2 linked regions of the Homo sapiens genome follow. The protein of the gene in region 1 purifies or fractionates together with the protein of each later gene. This does not show direct contact. Each region holds a gene or a part of one and is shown in the gene's direction. Other genes may lie near its edges.

Region 1 (3,749 bases):
TTATTTTATACCTGTTCTGTACCACTCCACAGGGCAGAGCCAGGACCAATGTGTGTAAACTACTGGGAGGCAGATTTTAACTCAACAGAAGCAAAAATCAATTAATTAATTAATTTTAAAACTCTGAATGATTAGAACTTTCTGAGATTTCAGTGAGATATCTTATAAGGCAGTGAGTTCTCCATCACAGGATTTAAGAAGAATAAGGATAGAAATGAATGAAATGGGACTTCTCTAGGAAAGAAACTATACAAATGAGAAACCAACCCTTGATGAAAAAATAAGAAGGCATAGTGAAACTTGGTTTTAAAGACACATCTCACAGAGAAATTGGAAAGTAAAACAGTTATAAAAAAGATATGAAGGTAAACTAATATTTGTCTAAATGCTATCTCAACACAAAGTTAATCAGATATCAGAGAAAAGCAACAAACAGTTCTTAAAAGGGGAAATTTCACATGAATTTCTGTTCAGAAACTTACTAAACAGCCTGGCTTTAAAACAAAATCCCAGGATCCTCACAGATCAGATGGTCATCTACCCTGAAAGTGTAAAACACAGAGGGAAGGGAAGTAGTATGCTCTGTAGGGGAAAGAGCATCTGCATAAGAAAGTAGCATCCAGGCTGATGTGAGTAGATGAGAGGCAGGCATAAGGTTAAAGATCATAAAATACTGTTAGATAAAAAAAAATACATATTGCAATGACAATTGAAAATGCTAGCATAATTGTAGTCCTGCTATTCAGTATGTGGTCAACAGAATTATTGCATAGTTTAATATGGAATGCCCTCCCTGCTGCATCTATCTTTTGGGGTCCAGCAGTCCCAGAACTCAAATATTTGTTGATTTAGTGAATTAATATAAACTTCCTCAACCAGAAGCACCAAGAGGTGGCTGGTTAAGGATTGAGAGTCCCAGTAAAATCTATTTATTCTATTATGAATAACTACTGAATAATTTATATATATGTACACATGTATATAAATATATTTTATAATCTATTCAGTGTGTATACATGCATATATATGCGTGTATATATATACACGCATATATATGTGTGTATATATATACACACATAGAGAGAATAATGCCAAGCTCTCCACCAAGGACTATCCCATTTCAGATAATAAGTGTTCTGGACTGTTTGTACTTAGATGGACAAATACGTATTTGATTTATGAAAATCAAAGTATTCATTCTTTTTAGATCTACAAACTTTACAAACTCAACTCTTTCTACAGGTCTCGAACTGAATGATTACCAATTTAGATCTGGGGGCTCAAAAAAACAAAATGTGATGTCAAGAAAAAGTGAAAGATTGTCTCCCATGAAAGTGACAAGAGATGAAACATGCTGAATGAGCCTAAATGGACATGATGGAGATACGGATGTGGATTAAAACTGAGAGTGTTGGGATATAAGGATATAATACTGATTTATGAAGGTGAACAGTCAAACGTCAGTGCAGGATCTGAACTGCAGGGGAAATAAGGGGCCTTGGTGGCTAAGGAAGGGAGGAGGGGAGAAAGAGGTGGTACTAGGGGAAGTAGCACAGAGGAAGAGGCAATACTACCCGAGACTAGATGCGGACCGTCTCTGGCAACCAGGAAAAGGCAAATACAAAGAGAGGTGAGTGACAATGCCTGGTGTGTCTCGGGTCAGAGAACACTAGCAGGCACTAGCAGGTGGCTGCGGCAGGGCCGCAGATCAAAGTGGTAACTGGGGATCTGAGTTCGGCAGTGACGCGCGTCCCTCACGTGACCAGGAGCCTCTATGTGCCCAAGTCCCTCTCGTCCCGGTCTTTTTTTTGCCTGTCCACCATCTCCCTATTACCCTTTGGTCGAGAGGGAAAGCAGAAGAAGTAAGTTCCCTCTACCCTCTTAAATCGGTGTGAGTGTCGGCGCTGCCTAGTAACCCGGGGAATGGGGTTGACAGAATCGGGATGGCGGAGTCCAGGCCTTTCCCTAAGCTCCAGCCCCGCCCCCCGCGCCCACATTTCTGTGCAAAATATGGTGGTCTTTGGGGCGGGGTGGGGAGGCGAGTACCTCCCCCGTCCCCCGGGAGGGGGGTACAGACATTTGGAAATAGTTTCTAAAAATGCTTCGCTTCCACTTCTCATCTGAAAAGAAATGGCAAGCTTTGCGGGGTGGGGAGGTGGGAGCACGGAGGACGAAGCTTGACGCAGGGGCTGAGACGAAAAGAGAACCCGAGAGCTAGGGGAGCGTGCAGGCAGTGGCTGGTGCCCAGAAAGTGGGGGGTGGGGGGTGTCAGTCAGTCCGTCCCTCCTCCCCACTCCCCGCCCCCTACCCTGTCTTGCGTCTGTGTGCAGGTCTGCTGGTCACAGCGGGGCACCTCGAGGAGAGGACGACTAGGAGCACACGGCCCGGAAAGGTCCAGGTCAGGGAAGGGGTACGCAGTGGGCCGGGACTGGGGCGCGAGGGTGGACGCCGAAAGGCATGGAGTCTGCAGGCCGCACTGTCCCGCCCCTGTCACTGCGGGCGAGGCCTGTAGCAAAGCCTGCTGGGAAAATGGTGGGCTTTCGGGAAGGAGGGGGCGACCGGGAAGCGGCGGAGTCGGGAGAGCCGGAGAGCCTCTGGGAAAGCGCAAGGTTGAGGACCTGGCCCCCGAATCAGGAAAAGGCAGGTATTGGAACCCACGGCCTGGGTGTTAGTCCAGCCGCTTAGTATTCTGACTCTATTCTGCCTTTCTTGTCTCCTAAGAATAACTGTGCTTGAAGAAGAAAATTCCCAACATGGACAAACCACGCAAAGAAAATGAAGAAGAGCCGCAGAGCGCGCCCAAGACCGATGAGGAGAGGCCTCCGGTGGAGCACTCTCCCGAAAAGCAGTCCCCCGAGGAGCAGTCTTCGGAGGAGCAGTCCTCGGAGGAGGAGTTCTTTCCTGAGGAGCTCTTGCCTGAGCTCCTGCCTGAGATGCTCCTCTCGGAGGAGCGCCCTCCGCAGGAGGGTCTTTCCAGGAAGGACCTGTTTGAGGGGCGCCCTCCCATGGAGCAGCCTCCTTGTGGAGTAGGAAAACATAAGCTTGAAGAAGGAAGCTTTAAAGAAAGGTTGGCTCGTTCTCGCCCGCAATTTAGAGGGGACATACATGGCAGAAATTTAAGCAATGAGGAGATGATACAGGCAGCAGATGAGCTAGAAGAGATGAAAAGAGTAAGAAACAAACTGATGATAATGCACTGGAAGGCAAAACGGAGCCGTCCTTATCCTATTTAATGTGTTCGGCCTTTAATTCTGTTTTGCCTGCTAATAGTATTGCCATTGCCACCTGGACTTTCTGTTTGCATTTTCTTAATGCCTTTTCCCATATTCTGAATTTTAACTTTTTGTGAGGCTTTATTTTAGATGTTTAGCATGTAACTCGCTTAAAGTTGAGGTTTCCCCCTAAAATCTACAAGTTTCCCTCTTTCAGTCATGAGCCCTACACATTTGCATGAAAGATGTACATTATATATTGTGAAACGAAAAAAGCAATTTTCAAATGGTATATATTGTATCCCATTTTTGTAAAAAAAATGTATATTTATATATTAATATGCAAAGAAAAAGCTAAAAGTATAGACTTCAAAGGCATAACAGTGGTTGTGTGGTAAGATAATAGGTGATTTTTTAAATTTTTGTTTTATCTGAATTTCTCATTTTTTCAGGACAAACGTTTTACTTGTGTTGCAAAAATATATAATGAAAAAATCACACAATTTTGAAGAAAACTGTCAATCAGCTTATAACGAC
Region 2 (3,749 bases), about 56 Mb from region 1:
ACTTCTAATCACTCTACTGTGTGTGTTTGTTTTTTGAGACAGAGTCTCTGTCGCCCAGGCTGGAATGTGGCGGCACAATCTTGGCTCACTGCAACCTTTGCCTCCTGGGTTCAAGCGATTTTCCTGCCTCAGCCTCCTGAGTAGCTGGGATTACAGGCGTGCACAACCACGCCCACCTAATTTTTTATTTTTAGTAAAGATGGGGTTTCACCATATTGACCAGGTTAGTCTCGAACTCCTGACCTCAAGTGATCCACCCACCTCGGCTTCCCAAAGTGCTGTGATTACAGGTGTGAGCCACCAAGCCCAGCCTCTACCGTGTCTTTCTAAGCACTTTAGTGATGTTTCAGCTTGCAGCCTCATGGTGCCATGATGACTGCCATGTCCCCAGAGATGGAAAAGCAAGCAGGGAAGACAGAACACCTTCCTTACCTGTCTGTGTTCTTTTAACGGCTGGAACTTCCACAAGCTCCTCAGCAGACTTCCTGTGCCATTTCTTGGCTAGAATCAGATGACATGGCCACTTCTGGCAGCAAGGGAGGATGGGAAAAGGAGGGCCTTGCAAAGGGGGACAGGATTGCCAGGCTGGATTTAAAAGGTCTAGAACTCACCCAACTGCTCTGGGAAGTGGTAGGGTCACTGGTGTGGGCAGAGGTTGGCCTCTGGAAGGTGGAAAAAAAAAAACGGTCTAGGGCTGGGAAAGGAGGTCTCTTGGATTTACCTGGCTGCCCAGATAAATGGGGAGGGGGAGTCTGCAGAGGGGCAATGGGGAGAATCAATTCAGAGAATCTGACAAGATTCAACTGGGCTTGAAGAGCAGCTATCTGCCATGTGTCTGACTCAACTCAAATGCCACTTTCTTTGGGGACCCTTAAGTGAAAGGCCTGCTCCCTTTCCTCACCCAGAGCTTACACAACTGAGTTTGTGACCCCTCATCTATGCCAGGTCTGGGCTGGGGGCTGGAATCACAGTAATAAAGACACAATCCCTGCCCCGCAGAGATTAACTGAAAATAGGTAAATTATGAAATTGTGAGGGGGAAGGGAGGTTCGAAATTAAAGTCATCATCAACGGGGCTGGCAGCCCCAGCAGAGGAAAGAATAGCATAGCCTAGAGCAGTGGTTCTCAACCAGAGACATTTTTCCCCCAAAGGACATTTGGTAATGTCTGGAGATACTTGGTTGTCCTGAGGGGTACTACTTGGTATCTAGTAGGTAGAGGCCAGGGATGCTGCTACATATCCTGCAATGCCCACAACAAAGAAATGACAGTGCTGAGGTTGAGAGACCCTGGCCTAGTCCAAGGGTTCTCAAACTTTGGGTCTCGGGATTCCTTTATGTTCTTAAAAGTTTAAGATATTCAAAAGAGTTTTTGCTTATGTCATATAGCCTCTGGATTCAGAAGCCTCTGGATAATCACACTGTACACCCCTGAGAGAATGAGAGTGAAAAAGTATTGTGAAAATAGTTTTCATTTTGTGAAACCCCAAGAGGATTTTTGGACCGGTAGACAGGCTGGGACCACTGGGACCACACGGTTGGAGAATGTTTGGCCTGGTGTTTAAGGTCACAGCTCTGAAACCAGATTTCTCAAGTCTAAACTGCAGCTCCACCACTAATTAGCTGAGGGACGTTTCTGGTACTCAGCGTCCCCATTGTTACCCATGGGTGACAAGGACAGTACCTGCTGCCTGAGGCTACTATTTTAGTCCAATAAAGCACTTAAACTGGGCGGACAGCTAGTTTAGTTATGATTGCTATGACTCCAACAAACATAGGGCCTGGGGCTAACTTGTCTTCAACACCTTGTCTAGTGAATAAATCTAGTTCAGGAAGAGAAACAACAGCCCGCAGGCCTCGGTGGGTCTCTGGAGGTGGAAACCTCTTTTGCATTGGGTTTTGATGGTACAATGAAGGGCATTCTGATCAGGCTAACAAAAACACTGCTCCCAGGGTAGGAGTCCTAGCCCACCTCGGGAACCTCAGCCTCCACTTTCCATGCCACCTGTGCCCTAAGTCTACAGGGCGTTAGGACCCCACAAGGCACTTTTGTCTTTCTTGGTTCCCACTGAAGATTTTACCCCACCTAGCCCTTCGACGCGTCTGTGCACGGGGCCATTTCCAATATGGCAGTAGCCCCGCGACTGTTTGGGGGGCTCTGCTTCCGTTTCCGGGACCAGAATCCGGAAGTGGCTGTTGAGGGGCGTCTTCCAATCTCGCACAGCTGCGTTGGCTGTAGAAGAGAACGGACGGCGATGGCGACGGTCGCAGCAAATCCAGCTGCTGCTGCGGCGGCTGTGGCGGCGGCAGCGGCGGTGACTGAGGATAGAGAGCCACAGCACGAGGAGCTGCCAGGCCTGGACAGCCAGTGGCGCCAGATAGAAAACGGCGAGAGTGGGCGAGAACGTCCACTGCGGGCCGGCGAAAGCTGGTGAGGCTGGGCTGCGGTGGAGCCTCGGCAGAGGGAACGGTGGGGGCATTGACAACCGCTGGGGATTCGGCGGCCGAGGGCCGCGGGAAAGCTGCTGCGGGGTGCGGGGGCGGGGGAGTGGCCGGCGGGACAGCGGGCTAAAGGGGCGGGGAAGTGCCTTTGAATGAATCGCAACGTCTGGAAAAGGGGCGGGGCCTGTGTGGTGCAGTCTGACGCCTGAGAACAAAATGGGGTTTGTTGTGATGAGACCAGTTTCGGTCCTGGAGGTGGGGCCGGGCCTGCGTAGTGAAACTGCGTAGGAACCTGGGAAGAAGGTGGGTTCTGCTACATAAGGCGGGGGCGCGGCCTGCGCTGCGTAATGCAACTTTTGGGGGCGAGGAGCGGTTTCCGATTGCTCCGGGGCGGCTGGGAACGAGGCGAGCTTTGTGACGTCAGCAGAAGAGCGGGATGGAGCCGAACGGTCCGAGGGAGGGAGCGGGGACCTCCGTGGGGGAGGGGGGAGGAGCCTGGAGCCTGGGAACGAGGTTAGGTTGGTGACGTGAGCTGAGGGGCGTGCTCTGAGGCCGAGGGACGACAGTGGAGGGGAGGTGGTGCCTATGAGGCAGAAAATGGCGCCTGCGAATAAGCAAAGTTTATGACGCGCCGTGGTTTTTGATTCTGGCGGAAGCCTTCCCGAGTCGAGAGAACGTGCAGGTGATTAGCACCGGAGGGGCCTTCCATGTTTAATTGGTTTTCTGTGTTGGTACTGTTTTGTTTTTAGAATCAAGAAAAAGTCGTTTTTTTAAAAAATAGAATTTTGATAAATCGGCTTGTTTTACTGATTTCTTGCTAAACAGTCCTTCTTGAAATTTACTGCTTCTGAGTTCATTTTATTTCTCGCCGAGTTGCATCTCGTTTTTTAATTGTGAAATACGTAAGACTTAAAAAGATTATATAAAACATTTACGCAGCCCAGATTGACGGACATCCTGTTAAAATAAACGGCCTACACTCTTCAAAAATGTCAGGATCATGAAAGACAAAGGCTGAAGAACTGTTCCAAATTGAAGGAATTAATGCAATTTAACGAGTCATGATAACTAAATGCAACATGTGATCCTCGATTGGATCCTGGAACAGAAAAAAAAATTATTTTAAAAATCAATTTTTTATCATAAGATTATTTTTGTCTCTTTTACTGTAAAAGGCAATGGAAACGTCGGTGAAATTTTATTAAAGTGGGTAGATACTAGTACTACTAATAATTGTGATCATTGTGGCTGTGAAAAATAATATCCTTGTTTATAGGAAATACTGAAAAATTTAGGGATAAGAACGCA

Evidence for each region. Proteins that work in one complex are often made in the same cells at the same time.
Region 2: the proteins of TCEAL1 (region 1) and USP11 purify together in Homo sapiens (affinity purification with mass spectrometry; 6 studies listed by BioGRID, with this or other methods). This does not show direct contact.

What each region holds. Positions count from the first base shown.
Region 1 is NC_000023.11:103,627,164-103,630,912, forward strand, and holds the start of TCEAL1 (transcription elongation factor A protein-like 1), read left to right. Parts: upstream 1-1,811; 5' UTR 1,812-1,862; intron 1,863-2,330; 5' UTR 2,331-2,410; intron 2,411-2,721; 5' UTR 2,722-2,753; coding exon 2,754-3,233; 3' UTR 3,234-3,749.
Region 2 is NC_000023.11:47,230,790-47,234,538, forward strand, and holds the start of USP11 (ubiquitin carboxyl-terminal hydrolase 11), read left to right. Parts: upstream 1-2,219; 5' UTR 2,220-2,254; coding exon 2,255-2,430; intron 2,431-3,749.